Linked DNA regions of Homo sapiens: regions 1, 2, 3 and 5 are each reported to be linked to region 4. The links are microRNA targets in miRTarBase. Many come from high-throughput screens and were not tested one by one. Region 4 holds a microRNA gene; each other region holds the end of a gene's coding sequence.
The links. The annotated mature microRNA hsa-miR-6507-5p reads GAAGAAUAGGAGGGACUUUGU and lies in region 4 at 1,774-1,794, shown strand. An mRNA with a match to its seed (bases 2 to 7 or 8) in the 3' UTR can be bound and repressed. Matches are read on the target gene's strand: a 7mer-m8 pairs with bases 2 to 8, a 7mer-A1 pairs with bases 2 to 7 and ends in A, and an 8mer does both.

Region 1 (3,168 bases), not on the chromosome of region 4:
GGGTTTTAGGAGCTGTGTGTAAAGAAAAAGGAAGACCAAATACTTATATCACAATATCATACCTATATTTTTAAAAAGAGAGGGCTGGACGTGGTGGCTTACCCCTGTAATCCTAGCACTTTGGGATTTGGGATGCCAAGGTGGGCAGATCACTTGAGGCCAAAGTTCAGTACCAGCCTTGGCAACATAGACCACATCTGTACAAAAAAGAAAAAAAAAAGAAAAAGAATAAATGCCTACTTTAAAATGTTCACAGAGGTTATTTCATCATTCTTTTGGACTTCAGAAAACTAGAGTTGGGAATCCCTTCTCCAAAAGACATTTACAGAGTTTCAGTTTTAGATCCATTTTTAATTGTTATTTTTCTTCTCTTTTTAGGAGTTTAATCTGATTGATAGGCGTGAGCTGGCACCTCTTCAAGAATTAATAGAGAAACTTGGATCAAAAGACAGATAAATGTTTCTTCTAGAACACAGTTACCCCCTTGCTTCATCTATTGCTAGAACTATCTCATTGCTATCTGTTATAGACTAGTGATACAAACTTTAAGAAAACAGGATAAAAAGATACCCATTGCCTGTGTCTACTGATAAAATTATCCCAAAGGTAGGTTGGTGTGATAGTTTCCGAGTAAGACCTTAAGGACACAGCCAAATCTTAAGTACTGTGTGACCACTCTTGTTGTTATCACATAGTCATACTTGGTTGTAATATGTGATGGTTAACCTGTAGCTTATAAATTTACTTATTATTCTTTTACTCATTTACTCAGTCATTTCTTTACAAGAAAATGATTGAATCTGTTTTAGGTGACAGCACAATGGACATTAAGAATTTCCATCAATAATTTATGAATAAGTTTCCAGAACAAATTTCCTAATAACACAATCAGATTGGTTTTATTCTTTTATTTTACGAATAAAAAATGTATTTTTCAGTATCCTTGAGATTTAGAACATCTGTGTCACTTCAGATAACATTTTAGTTTCAAGTTTGTATGGTAGTGTTTTTATAGATAAGATACGTCTATTTTTTCAAAATTCATGATTGCAGTTTAAATCATCATATGACGTGTGGGTGGGAGCAACCAAAGTTATTTTTACAGGGACTTTATTTTTTGATCTTTATTTGAGATTGTTTTCATATCTATCTAAATTATTAGGAGTGTGTGTATCAGAAGTAATTTTTTAATGTCTTCTAAGGATGGTCTTCCAGGCTTTTAAACTGAAAAGCTTAATTCAGATAGTAGCTTTTGGCTGAGAAAAGGAATCCAAAATATTAATAAATTTAGATCTCAAAACCACTATTTTTATTATTTCATTATTTTTCAGAGGCCTTAAAATTCTGGATAAGAGAATGGAGGAAAATACTCAGAGTACTTGATTATTTTATTTCCTTTTATTAAAAAATTACTTCTATGTTTTTATTGTCTCTTGAGCCTTAGTTAAGAGTAGTGTAGAAATGCATGAACTTCATCCTAATAAGGATAAAACTTAAGGAAAACCACAATAAACCATGAAGGTGTACACATCTTATAACACAGATAAAGTTTTGGTGTGCTACCTATTCTTGAGAGAGTGAGTGAGTGTATGTGTTTAAAGGAAACAAAATGGGAGAAATAAGTTTTAAAAAAATCCTCATTTTGTTAATATTCAAAAGATGGACTGAGCTTCCACTTGGGTTTTATCTTGTTTTAATTGTTTTTGTATCAAAACTTGAAATTCCTCTATTTCTATTGGGATATAAAAGCCTTCCCCTTCAGTGAAGAAAACATTTATTTTTTATTTGATTCCTAGGATTTAGTAAACTCTAGCTGTCTATTTAAAATGTACTGAGGCACAACAAGTATTATACTGGAAGACTTGCCAAACTGGCAAAGCTTTAAGTTCATCAGCATTCTATGTGGTTCAGAGCTGTGATTTTTGCAAAGTATTTTACCAACCTCCTCGATGGCTTTGATAAAGGTTAGATTTGATGTTTTTTTTTAGATTTATTTTTCTTACTCCACTAAACTATAAAGAAAATAATTACTTAGAAACTCCATTTTAAATAATCATTTCCTAGAAATTCTTAAATATATACAGAATTTTAAAGAAAACATTTCATCTGATTTAGTTAGCATCCACATATCATTGAGGAATTAAAGTGTGGGACAGTCATTATTAAAAAAAAGAGAGAAAAGCCCTCTATTAGACATTCCACAATCCATGTTTTAAGCTTATCCAAAGGTCCAAATGTCAGCCATTCTGTATGTTCATGTTGATCATTTGCGAACAAGAAAGCAGGTTTCTAGGTATCACTTAGGATGTGAACTGCCTCTCAACTTTAAACCCTGTTAGCTTTACTTTTTTAAGTCCACAAGTGATGAAACTAGTTTCTCAGCTAGGCTTGTACTTTCCTCATTATTTCTAGTATTTCAAATATTCTCAAACAAAAGAGTTACCACTTTTCTCCATTTATTTTCAGTTATGGAAATGTTCCCTCTCTTCACCACTAAGCTCCAAAGCAAATGAAAGACGATCACATGTCAGGACAGTAGTAAAGGCAGCTTATAAATGGGACATAAATCAGAGATGTGTTGGTATTTTGAGACTCAAGACTGTCCTTTTTTAAAATAAAAATAAAAACATTACCAGGTTCCCAAGCCAATCTGGCTTAACCAACAGTGCACTGAAATATTAGTGTTTACCTCCAAGGCTAGGGAGCCAAGGGGAGGAGGAGAATTGGAGGAAGGGGAGATAATGGGAAGAGGATGGCGCCTTCCTGAGTTGGCTAGAGGGCCAACCTTTGATAACAGTTTGACGAAATCAATCTTTTTTTTTTTTTTTTTTGAGACAGAGTCTCACTCTGTCACCCAGGCTGGAGTACAGTGGTGGGATCTCGGCTCACTGCAAGCTCTGCCTCCCAGGTTCATGCCATTCTCCTGCCCCAGCCTCTCCTGAGTAGCTGGAACTACAGGTGCCCGCCACCACGCCCAGCTAATTTTTTCTATTTTTAGTCATGCCTGGCTAATTTTTTGTATTTTTAGTAGAGATGGGGTTTCACCGTGTTAGCCAGGATGGTCTCCATCTCCTTACCTCGCAATCCGCCCGCCTCAGCCTCCCAAAGTGTTGGGATTACAGGCATGAGCCACCGTGCCCGGCCTATAGAAATCAATCTTTTTGACTC
Region 2 (3,151 bases), not on the chromosome of region 4:
CCTGCGTGCCTTTGAAGATCAAGAGTAAAAGCCTAGGACAGGATTTTTTTTTTTCTTACTTTTTTCTCATTTTTTTTCTTTTTTCTCTTTTTTATAGATAGCAAGTATATTTTTTCTCATAGAACTCTATGAAGATTCTATAACTTCTTTCCATGTAGAAATAAGATATCATTTAAGATGTACTAAAATCACTTTTGATCATAATCCCCTGTAAAAGCTAAAGTTATTCACTTAACAGGAACTCTGTTTTTCCTTATTCAAATGTCACAAGCCTGACGCGTTACTGTACATATTGCTAGCAGGAGACAACTGGAAATACTAAACAAATACTGGAATTCACATTACAGACAGACGAAACCAACATGGATGCCACACATAACTTCCTTTGTAGTTTCACAGAGAGCCTATTTGTGGTTGCTCAGGTGGGGTCATACATTGCTTGCAGAAATGGCCTGATCATAGCTCTATGAAACAATGAATTCGGAATGAAATCTTACCATGACACCTCTCTGTAGGAAAGAAATGTTGCTTCACGTGTGCTAAGTTGAGATAATAATATTTCACATATTTATATACAGAGAATCACTCTCAAATTTAACCCAAGATAAGCAATAGGATTTGGGGGTGACTTGTACGCATTTCTAAAAACACTTTTCTTTTTTCTAGAGGTCACTCTCAAACACTGATATATCACTATAGTTTGAGTGTAGGGATTCAGTAATCAAAGGTTGTTATTGCAAAAGAGCCAGGCAGCTGGACAATTTTTATGGGGAATGTCCACTTTAGCGGAGAGATTTAAGACTGGATTTCTAGAATAACCCACAATGGAGCCGAGGAACATGATCTTCAAATATCTTTGGCTACTGTTTCTTGGTAATGCAATAATTTTTCAAAAAAGTATCCATTGCTACTATGTTTCCTTCCACCTTATAACACTCAAAACTTTCCTGAAAAATGAGAAGAGAAATGAAAAAATGACAAGCTGTTGGAAAGACAAATCTCTGATCCCTAGGTCACCAATTTAAAATGGGTGAATAATTTCCATTCAATGTCTTCTCAGTGAAGTTATCCTAATTTCCCAGAAAACCCATGCAAAGCAGTTTTAATATTCTATCCTTTCTTCCCCCATTCTTCTATAATATTCACCGTTTGGTGACCGGATACACAAATCCACAAAAAGTGATGTTTTCAGACAATCATATGTTTGATCCCATAAATGATATAAAAGATTTTTAAAAACCTGCTTACTGATAAATAAGGGACCGAGTGCTTAAACAAAAAGGAAAGACACATGTCTTCCTTCAATCTGATTAGCTAAGCTGAGCAGGTACTTCATCGGCCAAACCCTCCCGCAGCTGCTAGGGAACACAGAGCCGTATTTACTCCAAGGGGCATAGCCCCACCAAAGGCAAGCTTTCTTCTTTTTTTGGCAGGGCCCTGAAATGGGAAGCAACTCTTCCTAAACATATTCAAAGGGCCAGAGCTACAGAACGGGACTTGTATTTTTGTTTCTCCCTACTGATTCTTTGTGTGTGCATGTCTCTAATTTAACAAGCTGTAAATACACTCCACTTTGGGGACCCATCTCTGTACTGCAATTTCATGAAGGCTAACACGTACAAGTCAAAAGTTTTTCAAAACAGTGGTCTCCTAAGAATGCTCTTGCATGCACCTGTGCAACCTGACGGGGGAAATAGGCCACACAGACCGTCTGGGTCTTCTGTGGGACATCACATCCTCCTACAAATGAGAATCTCATGTAAGAAAATCCCATGTCTTTGTTTACCACAAGTAATTAAGAAGAAAAGCCTCTTTTGTTGGGGAGGAAACAGAGGTGATATGACTAATGTGTGTGTGTGTGTGTATATATATATATATTTATATACGTACAGAGCACAATGAAAAGCACAACCTTGCTAAAAGCTCTTTCAAAGTGAAAACACCAATAAAAGCTTTTTTTCTTGTTTGTCTGTTTGTGGTTTTTGTTTAAACTCACAGCTATATACATTTTTCTTTTTTACAAAGTCTCTTAAATATAGTTCAGGCTGGCAAAACACCTCTTTGCACAGAACCGTACAGATTTCGCTGCACAGTCCATTCTTTTAATAATAAATTTCTACGTTTCCTTCTCTCTGGATTACAGCTCCATGTGCTGGGCAAAATCTCATTGACTCTTTCTTCACTTAAGGAGAGCCATCCATTGTGTGGCACAGAAAGAAATGTTTAAACTTCCATTGTAATTAAAAAATATCAAGTGTCCTTGGCTGAGTTTCAGAAGTGTCAGCTGCTTCCATGACGTTGGAAACACCCGGGGCCTTGAAATGGTGATGTCCTATCACACTAAACATCGATTGGAGTGGTAGAGATCTTAAAGCAGTTATTTTAACAGAAATGTGTACTTCTCACATTTCACAGGGTCAGAAGTTGATCTTGTAATACTGGAAAACACCAACGATAAGGGTCTGCCGGGATGGGATGACTGCCTTTTTGCATTTTTGTCTTAAGTCAGTGGGACAAAAACATTCCTGGTCTGGAGACTTTCTTTCTCTCTCTCTTTCCTTCTCTCTTTCCTTCCCTCTTCTATGTTGCTGAGCGGGTAGGGCAGAGGGATAGGAAGGGAAATAGGGCAAAGCTATACTCTAGTGGTGGAATGTCCGTGGGGTAAATTTGTACTGTTTTGTCCTCCACTGAAGGTGTTAAAAGTGTGCAAAGGCTGCATCCCCGTCAGTGTGTTTGGAATCATGGTGATGGTGTTTGGCGTCATAAGTGGGATGTCATCTGGCGACCGGCGCAGCGTGAGGGTGTAGTCTGGCGGGCAGGTGAGCCTCAGTGTGTCGTGTGCCTGCAGCGACTCACACTCGTGATCGTGTTCCAGCTGCTTCATCTGCAGAGACATGATCTCTTCGTTCTGGATGTGAGCGATATCATTTGTGGTGTTTCTCTGGGGACTGGGGCGCCTGTGAGTCTCATGGCGCCTCTTGTCCTTTTTGTAGTACAGCGCCGCAAAAGCTAAGATGTTGAGGAAGAGGAGCGACGCCCCGACGGCAATGGTGACACTTAATTCGGTGGAATAATCTCGTTTGGTTTCAATGAGGACAGTTGTGTCCTCAGGCCCTGTTTTGTGAGGGTCCTTAGAGTGTTTGGGATTGTT
Region 3 (3,000 bases), not on the chromosome of region 4:
CCGTTCGTTGGAGGTTCGTCTACATTTTTTTTTTTTTTTTGAGACAGTTTCGCTCTTGTAGCCCAGACTGGAGTGCAGTGGCGTGATCTCGGCTCACTGCAACCTGCGCCTCCCGGGTTCAAGTGATTCTCCTGCCTCAGCCTCCTGAGTAGCTGGAACTACAGAGATGCGCCACCACGCCCGGCTAATTTTTGTATTTTTAGTAGAGACGAGGTTTCCCCAAGTTGGCGAAGATGTTCTTGATCTCCTGACCTTGCGATCCGCCCGCCTCGGCCTCCGAAAGTGCTGGGATTACAGGCGGGAGCCACCGCGCGGGCCTTAATTTTTATTTTAGTTTACTTTTGATAAGGAGTCTCGCTCTGTCGCCCAGGCTGGAGTCCAGTGGCGCGATCTTGGCGCACTGCAGCCTCCGCCTCCCGGGTTCAAGCGGTTCTCCTGCCCCAGCCTCCAGAGTACCTGGGATTACAGGCGCCCGCCATCACACCCGGCTAATTTTTGTATTTTTAGTAGAGACGGGGTTTCACCATGTTGGCCAGGCTCGTCTCAAACCCCTGACATCAAGTGATCTGCCCACCTCGGCCTCCCAAAGTGTTGGGATTACAGGCGTGAGCCACCACACCCGGCTAAAAATTTTTTTTTAATTAAAAAGTTAAGTTCAGACAAAAGTCACCCAACAGTTGTTTACTGAGCACCCATGTACCAGACGCTAGCAAGGCCCTGGGGTACGAGGTGCCCACACAGGCACCATTTAGCCAGTTCTGTCCCTGCCGGTTCTTCCAGCTTCGTCCTCTCTCACACGTCAATGCCCCTGCTCATTCGTTGCATTTCCTCTTCCCTCTAGCATGGTACCTGGATATTTGCTAAATAAAACTTAAACCTTTTATTTTTGTTCTTTTTTAAAATTTTTCCTAGACAGGGTCCTGCTCTGTTGCCCAGGCTAGAGTGCAGGGGTACACTCAGCTCAATGCAACCTCAAACTCATGGACTCCAGTGAACCTCCTGCCCAGGTCTCCCAAAGTGGTGGGATTACAGGTAGGGTACCTTATAGACATCTAAGGACCACACAGGGTACTTCATTAATCAGATTCATAAATCCAATCATAAATATTATATTGGCTAAGTTATAAAGAAAGTGAGACATGAAGATTCCAGCTTTTTTTATTTTTTCCCCTTTTACACAAAACAAAGTAGAAGAAATAATACAGGATTAAAACTGCAAAAGTAGTTAATCAGTAGAATATGTATGCACACAAAAAATCCAGATAGGAAGACAGGCTTATTTACAATGAAAGTAAGGTAAAATTAACGTAGTTTTCTTATGAAATAATAAAAAAAAATCAAACATATGCTACAATGGGCACCACTGTTCACAGCAATATTAAAGAGGAGAAAACAACACTTATTTAATAGGGACAGATATACCACAAGGTACAACATCAGTGCAATAAATTCACAAAACTATATTACAGCTAGTTAATCAGTTTAAGAATTGTTCCCGTCAGTCACATTTTTTGGCCCTCAGAAGTTCATTCCTAAAGATTTCAACTACTCTAAATTTCTAGCTACCAAGAAGTTAAGAATGATTATAAGAAGCTTTCCAAGGAGTTATGAAATCTTTGTAGACCAGAGGCCAACTATCATCACCTCAAGTCTGCTCTCACCAACAGCCCTTGTATTTTTCAGGGAGAAATCTCTAGGAAAAAAGTCAGACACCAGTGTAGTCACTATCTCCCATGTCAAACCTAGGGGACTAAAATGGTCAGTATTACCATAAAATGATAATTTTGAGGTTTACCTTAAAAGGCTTATTCTGGTCTCAAAAATTAGATAAGATTATCTTCTACTGAAATGAATATTGACTAAACATAGAAGACTGCTGTCCTTTTGCCAGTCTTAGAGTGAAAGTCATAGACATGAGTCTTAACCTACTGTATACTATAGCTAATGTCAGCTGAAAATCTGAAATTAAAAGCATGCTAGAAATCCTAAATGCAATCTTTTGGAAGTCTGCTATTAAAAAGCCTTTAAGGATTTACTAACTTCGAGTCTAAGTGCAAGGGGACGAAAGCTTAAGCCTGTCAGACATTCCTTTTCTTGGACAAAAAGATCAAAGTTTCCTACAAATTGCTAAGCTTTGCACAAGGGAGAAGCCTACATGTACTAGTGCATGGAATCAGTTTCATCTTATTTCATGGGGACTCTTCTCCCACTGGAAAGAAACAGAATGAGGAATGAATCTTAATTGGTCTCTTCATCAGAAGTGGTAAACTTGGTCTCTATATTCACGAAGTCAGACAGTTTTTTAAGCAGACTGTGGAAGCAGACAGAACCAGCTTCCTGTAGCCACAGACCACTACATGGTATCTAAGCTAAAGCAAAGATGAACAATTATCCAGATTCACTTGAACTGTACTAAAGGGCAAGGTTCACCACTACAAAAAGGAAGTTGTCTAAAAGCAAGAATTCAATTAACGCTGGGTAAGAAAAGTCAAAACACTAATGAGTTGTCCATGAAGCCAACTGCTAAGAACGCGCTCAACTATACGCGACATGAAGACACTATGCACGAAGCCTTACTTGGCGAGTCTGAATTTCTATTAACTAAGGGCAGAGTGAGGGAGAACAAAGAGCTACTTCCGTAACATTTTAGTATCCAGATAGTACAGCAGAAACGGTTCCCGGGGCAATGGGTGCTGCATTAATCACACTGATTAAAGCAGATGAATCATTCGTTTTTCTTTTCTTTTTGTTTGAGAAGTTTGTTTATCTCCCTCTTGGCCATTCCAATGTACTTCAAAATGATTCCATGTTGGTTTAGTCCAGGAAGCAATAGTAAGGAAGTCACTTAAAATAAAAAAAAACCCAACATTAAGGAGGCAGCAATTAACCTGCTAAAGGTTATTACTTTTTTTTTTTTTTTTTGAGACAAAGTTTCACTTTTGTTGCCCAGGCTGGAGTGCAATGGCGCAATCTTGGCTCACCGCAACCTCCGCCTCCCAG
Region 4 (3,168 bases):
TTTTGTCTCCTACTTGTAATTCTTATGTAGACCTTTCCTTCATTCCTATTGACCTTCAGACCTCCTCCCACTGGTTCAGCACCAATTTAAAAAATAAAACTTAAAAATGATGTATTTTCCAATAGCACGCATTTGTGGCTTTATAAATTCATTCAATAAGTTACTATGGCCATACAAAAAGCATGCCCTTTTGAGGTTCACTTTCTACCAGGGGGATATAGATAATAAAGAATGTATATTCAGTATTTTAAAAGGCAATGACACCTACTTCTACTGCCAAAAAGACAGAGTAAATATACTTTCCCCTATTCCTCCTATTAAGGGTAACTAAAAACTCTAAATATTATATATAAAAAACATGTAAGAAGACTCAGAGGTTGAAAAGAAGTCAGCCAAGAACCCAAGGAACAACATGATGGTGAGTTCCCTGGGTTTTCTTCTTGTCTTTAATATCCCAAACTTGGCGCTGAAGAAGCTGGAAACCTGGAAATCTCAATGAATACAAACACAAAAGACCCCAACAAAAGCCAGTTTTCTCTAGCCAAGGAGAACAATAAAGGACCAATCTAGCAAGACAGAAAGGTTTTACACAATAACCACTCCACCCTAGCCAAATGTCATAAAAAATTTGTGTCCTATTTCTCACACAAACAAAGGCTGAGTAGGGAGCCTGGACTTACCCTCATGAAACTCTAATGTGCTCCTGCAACATCCTTGCCAGGATGGTGTCCAAGTAGAGAGCCTGCACTTCATCCCCATTGGTTGATATTGAGGGAACACCCTCCCACTTCACTGCAGTATTAGTTGAGACTCTGGAGATGTGGAACTTACCCACCTGCTCAGCAATAATGAGGAGCCTCCCTTTGGTGTGAATGAAGGCTGAATGGGCAACCTGGACTTTGACATCCACCTGGCAGAAACAAAGCAGTGCCCTCACTTATACCCTGCCAGAGCAGTGTCAAAAAAAAAAAAGCCAATTAAAATAAAAGGTTTAAATAAGATCTAGGGAGGTGGAGCAAGATGGTTGGGATAGAAGCCTTCACTGTTTGTCCCTCTGGCTTGAACACCAAATCTTAACAACTATCTGTACACAGAAAAGCCCCATCACAAAAACCAACAATCAAGTGTGCAATCACAGTACTTGGATTTAACGTCATATTCACAGTACTTGGATTTAACGACAGAGGCATTGAGGAGGGCAGAAGAGATACTTTAGAATCACTGACACCACCTCACCTCCATCCCCTAGCAGTGGCCATGCAGTGCAGAGAGAGAACTTGAGCACTTTGGGGAGGGAGAGCACAGCTGCTGGGCGACTTTACATTGAACTCAGTGCTGCCCTGTTACAGTGGAGAATAAAGCTGTATTGAGCTCAGCCATTGCCTGTGCACAATGGGAGCATCTGGACCAGCCCTAGCCAGAGGGGGGTCACCCATCCCAGTGGTCCAAACTTGAGTTTCTGTGCAAACCTCACCACTTAGGGCTAAAGTGCTCTGGGGTCCTAGGTAAACTTGAAAGACAGTCTAGGACACAAAGACTGCAATTCCTAGGCAACTCCTAGTGCTAGGCTGGGCTTCAAGCCAGTGAACTAGGAGTGGAACATGACCTAGGGAGACACCAGCTGGCACAGCTATGGGAGAGTAAAGAGAAGTCATCCCTCCCCCAAACCCAGGATTGCAGCTTGTAGCAATGGAAGTGACTGTTTCTTTCCGTTTAAGGAGAGGAGATCAAAGTTAAAGGGTACTTTGTCTTACATCTTGTGGAAAGGGGAGGGAAGAATAGGAGGGACTTTGTATTGTGGTTCAGTACCATGCAAAGTCCTTCCTATTTTTCCCTCCACTTTACTTCCTTTCCCTCAACTTAGCTTCCGTAGAATAGAACATCACATAAGTTTCTAAGGTTTTTGACTCCAACTTCTGGCTCCCAGACAGCATCTCTGGACACACCTGGAGCCTACAAGAACTCACTACCCTGACGGGAAGGGCCTTGGGCAAGGCCCATTGCTGTGCTGGCTTTGGGTCTGACCCAGCACAGTCCCAGTGGTGGTGGCCACAGGGGTGATTGCATCACTACACCCCCCAGTTCCAGGTGGTTCGGCACAGAGAGAGAGAGACTCCATGTGTTTTGGGGAAAGTAAGGGAAAAGAACAAGGGTTTCTGCCTGGTAATCCAGAGCATTCTTCTGGATCTTACCCACAACCACCACAGCAGTACCTCTATGAGTGTACAAAACCCACCGTATTATTGGGCTTGGGGCCCAAGTCCCTTTGAATACCTAGAAAACCTTCCCAAGAAAGACAGGCACAAATAAGCCCAGACTGTGAAGACCACAATAAATACATAACTCTTTAATGCCCAGATGCCAAAGAACTTCTACAAGTGCCAACATCATTCAGGAAAACATTACTTCACCAAATGAACTAAATGAGGTACCAGGGATCAATCCCAGAGAGATAGATATATATGACGTTTCAGACAGAGAATTCAAAATAGCTGTTTTGACGAAACTCAAAGAAACTTAAGATAACACAGAGAAGGAATTCAATATTTTATCAGGTAAATTTAACAAAGAGATTGAAATAATTAAATAGAATCAATCAGAAATTCTAGAATTGAAAACTGTAGTTGACATGCTGAAGAATTTATCAGAGTCTCTTAATAGCAGAATTGATCAAGCAGAAGAAAGAATTAGTGAGCCTAGAGACAGGCTATTTGAAAATACACAGTCAGAGGAGACAAAAGGGAAAAAGAATAAAAAAGAATGAAGCATGCCTACAAGATTTAGAAAGTAGCCTGAAAAGGACAAATCTAAGAGTTATTGGCTTTAAAGAGGAGGTAGAGAAAGAGATAGGGATAGAAAGTTTATTCAAAGGGATAGTATCAGAGAATTTCCCAAACCTAGAGAAAGATATCAACATTCAAGTAGAAGAAGTTATAGAACACCAGGCAGATTTAACCTAAAGAAGACTACCCCAAGGCATTTAATAATCAAACTCCCAGTGGCCAAGGATAAAGAAAGATTCTAAAAGCAGCAAGAGAAAAGAAACAACACACAGTGGAGCTCCAATAGGTCTGGCAGCAGACTTTTCAGTGCAAACCTTACAGGTCAGGAGAGAGTGGCATGAGATATTTAAAGTGCTGAAAGAATAAAACTCTTATCTTAGATTAG
Region 5 (3,168 bases), not on the chromosome of region 4:
GCAACCATAAAGAAAGGAATCTCCAACAGAAGGGACAATGGCCAGCAGTAGGTGAAGGGAACCCATTCTTCAGCTCTGTTGCATCATACACATTCCTGAGGGTCAGGCACCTCTGCCTTTTAGATGACACCACAGTCATCTAGAAGTCAGGTTTTCTCTTCTTTTGGTTCTTCTTTTTATATGCTACCTTTTTGCCTCTCTGATTTATGGGGAGGCTCTTTTAGTAAACATTATACAAGATAGTACAAGGCAAAAGAAAACAAGGACCAAGAAGCAGTGCTTTGAGTAACTTAGGAAAGCAGCAGTAGGAGCTGCCAGACTGAAAAGGTAAAAGGGTTTAAAACCAAAACCAAAACCAAACTCACTATCCAGTCTTCCTCTCAGAGATGAGATATGGCTGGTGAGGCTTGACTACAGCTAAATACAAGTCACAGGCTTAGTAAGTTAAGACAACATACAAATAAAAGTCCCAAATTCACACTAAATAATAGGCTTATGGGATGCTTAAGCCAGTGAGTCTGCTCAACTCAGAAGAAAGGAGTTCAAGATACCCTACTTTTGCCTGGAAGATGTACTTTCTCAGGCAGGATGACAAAAATATTCATAGATCTGAGAATGCAGTATAAACACCTCTGCCAAACTTGGTAGGGGGAGAGGATGGTACTGTATACTGGCTCAGGGGTGATACTAGTCAGACAAGCACAAGGTAGGAAGAACAGAAGATAAACCAAAAAACAAAATGGATTTCTCCATGTATAGTTATCTGATGCAAGGGAAAATACACACAACAAAGAGTTAAGGTGTCTTCAAAGTATCTGCCTATGAATAAGAATTTGAAACTAAAAAGGACAAGCTACATTACCCTCAAGTATATTTCATATAAATCAGTTCTCAAAAAAATACCTTCCAGGTACAGACATACTATTTATGGTACAGTATATACAAATATAGCAGTATAATTCAATTTATTGCTAGAATTTTATTTGGTTGTTAGAAAATCTGTAAGGGTGTATATATATTAAAAAAAGGTGTGGGGTGAGAGTGGATGGAAGGCAGTCAGAAGGGTGAGAGTTATTTTCAAGTTACCTAAAGTGCCAGGCTAATTTGTTTTAACCTTTCCAAGAAAGTGAAACTGAGCATAAGCTATAATGAGATAAGGGGACACATTCATGGGAAAAGACTTCATCTTGCTTTAACTAAATTTTAATACTTCTGGAAAAAAAATTTAAGTTTGGTTAATACCAAGCTGAACATCATGTAAAGAAAAAAAAAACAGCCCTTAAATGTTTAAGGGTACCGGACTGTATCCATGGTGAAGGGCAACCTGAACAAAGTTAAAAAGGAAATGATCTCCACTAAAGAAGTCTGTGGCATGACAGCTTTCTCTACTTTCTCCCTGACTTGGCCTATACCAAAGTTAAGTTTTTGTAGTTTTTTTTTCCCCTTTCAAGTTGTTGCCCAAAGACTGCTTCTAAGAACAACACAGCAATTCTAGACTCAACATACAGGAGACATGGAGGTATTATTCCTTTCAATCTAGGGATCTTTCATGCCAGGTCCACAGAAGCATTTAAAGGAAGTATTGTACTTGATTGTATTAGATTTGAAAAACTTGCTACCACCATGTGAAGGCCCTAGCTCCAGGCCTGCCCTGCTATACTTTGGCATCCTTTGGGTAGAAAGCCTCTAGCTACTTCTGAGCTGGTAATGGTAAGGAAACTGAATATTATTTCACATGTTTCATCTCACAGCCTTTTTGGCTTTAGTCATCCCCCAGAGAAACATATTAGGCTCTTGGTTAGCCTCTAGGTAAAATCTCAAGGGGTATGGTTTTCTGGGTCAAAATTAGAAGCACAGCTCTCTTCTAAAGCTCTGGGTGGTCAGTGTGAGATAATGGCTGGGGGAATTTAGCCCTGCCATTCAAATGGAGATGGTACTGGTGGTGGGAGCCAGCTACGGCTTTAAGACAGACTTAAGTGGGTGGGTGGGGAAGGCAATCTAGCTCACTCAGCAGGGAAAATGGAGCTCCCCAATGGATAACTTTTTATGCTCATAAACCCTGAAATAGTACTAAAAATGAGAAAAATCCCCAAGACTTCTCTGATTCCCAGGTTGGGATTAGCTGAGGGAATAGGAACAAAGAACCAGAATCCTACTTCCATGAGCCATGCCTGGAGTCAGTATTGTCTCCAGTGTCTACTCCCTGAAATCGGTTCCTCCAGCTACCAGGACAAACCCCCTGGCAGCGCCTGGGCCTTTGAGGGATACCTTATGGAGACATGGATGTAGTTTCAGCTGCCACCTACACCAGATCAGCAATTTTTAATAAGTCATTTGTTCATATCCTGTTCAAAACCATTCTTCCTACTTTCCACACAATATGCACAATGCTTTCTTTCATTTAAATATTTACAAACAGAAAAGGCCTATCTTTTAAAGAAAAGACATTTTCTGAGTCTCTATAAAGTGCAGCTAATTTAAGGCAAATTTAAGTGAAATATAAAAGTGGCTTATTCTCTCTCTATATACATTTCCCAGCTTTAAAAGATAAGGTCTCCTCCCCTCAAAAAAAGGAAAGAGAAAAAAAGAGGGCTTTAATTTTTTTTCTGGCAATTTTAAAATGTAAGATCTTACTGGTTGTAGGAAATCATAGATTTCTGAACATCATAAGTAAAATGGTCTTCTTCTTTAAAAAAATAACTTTTATATAGCTTCTTCAAACAAGTTAAAAGGTGGCAAAGTATCTGCTACAGTAGTTTGGAGGACTAGAGGACTGATGGGTAAGTAAGGGTTGTTTTGTTGTTAGGTAAATAGATATTAGGCAGTCCATTTCTAAAATATGCCTGATGAAGCTAGATACCTAAAGCTACCCTTAGCTCCAGGAATGAGTATCTTCCATCTCCATCGGAATCAAATGCTCTCAAGCTCTCTGGTTCTGGCATAGCAGAACCTAGGGAGGTCCAGATTTCCTGGTAGGTCAGCTTCCCATCCACGTCCTGGCCAGTCTTGCGGAATAAATCCTGAAGATCTGTCAAAAATGAATTACAAAAAATGTATACGTCTAAACATACAGCTAAATTTAGTTAAAAGTAGTCTCAACTGAATTTAAAACACTAAAAGAAAAGCTACTCCGCAAATTTTGTTTCCAAATGGTAAAGTTTAGGATTT

Region 1: miRTarBase lists MOB1A as a target of hsa-miR-6507-5p. Seed matches in the 3' UTR shown: 7mer-m8 at 750-756, 7mer-m8 at 901-907, 7mer-m8 at 1,565-1,571 and 7mer-A1 at 2,067-2,073.
Region 2: the mRNA of NLGN4X is a reported target of hsa-miR-6507-5p. Seed matches in the 3' UTR shown: 7mer-A1 at 1,652-1,658.
Region 3: miRTarBase lists ARL6IP1 as a target of hsa-miR-6507-5p. Seed matches in the 3' UTR shown: 7mer-A1 at 1,575-1,581 and 7mer-A1 at 1,484-1,490.
Region 5: the mRNA of EFCAB14 is a reported target of hsa-miR-6507-5p. Seed matches in the 3' UTR shown: 7mer-A1 at 827-833.

What each region holds. Positions count from the first base shown.
Region 1 is chr2:74,153,856-74,157,023 of GRCh38, reverse strand. It overlaps MOB1A (MOB kinase activator 1A), which reads left to right. Exons shown (of 6, transcript NM_018221.5): 6 at 379-3,168. The coding sequence ends at 456. Among named protein-coding and RNA genes, the nearest start is that of BOLA3-DT, 7.5 kb to the right of the region's middle.
Region 2 is chrX:5,890,185-5,893,335 of GRCh38, forward strand. It overlaps NLGN4X (neuroligin 4 X-linked), which reads right to left. Exons shown (of 6, transcript NM_181332.3): 6 at 1-3,151. The coding sequence ends at 2,633. Among named protein-coding and RNA genes, the nearest start is that of LINC03070, 170 kb to the left of the region's middle.
Region 3 is chr16:18,790,527-18,793,526 of GRCh38, forward strand. It overlaps ARL6IP1 (ARL6 interacting reticulophagy regulator 1), which reads right to left. Exons shown (of 6, transcript NM_015161.3): 6 at 1,143-2,844. The coding sequence ends at 2,726. Among named protein-coding and RNA genes, the nearest start is that of RPS15A, 1.7 kb to the left of the region's middle. RefSeq lists an enhancer at 1-45.
Region 4 is chr10:98,923,169-98,926,336 of GRCh38, reverse strand. MIR6507 (microRNA 6507) reads left to right here and starts at 1,769; the gene lies at 1,769-1,838. The region is part of intron 3 of HPSE2 (heparanase 2 (inactive)); the gene reads left to right.
Region 5 is chr1:46,675,609-46,678,776 of GRCh38, forward strand. EFCAB14 (EF-hand calcium binding domain 14) reads right to left here. Exons shown (of 11, transcript NM_014774.3): 11 at 1-3,028. The coding sequence ends at 2,853. The region is part of intron 1 of EFCAB14-AS1 (EFCAB14 antisense RNA 1); the gene reads left to right. Among named protein-coding and RNA genes, the nearest start is that of EFCAB14-AS1, 3.2 kb to the left of the region's middle.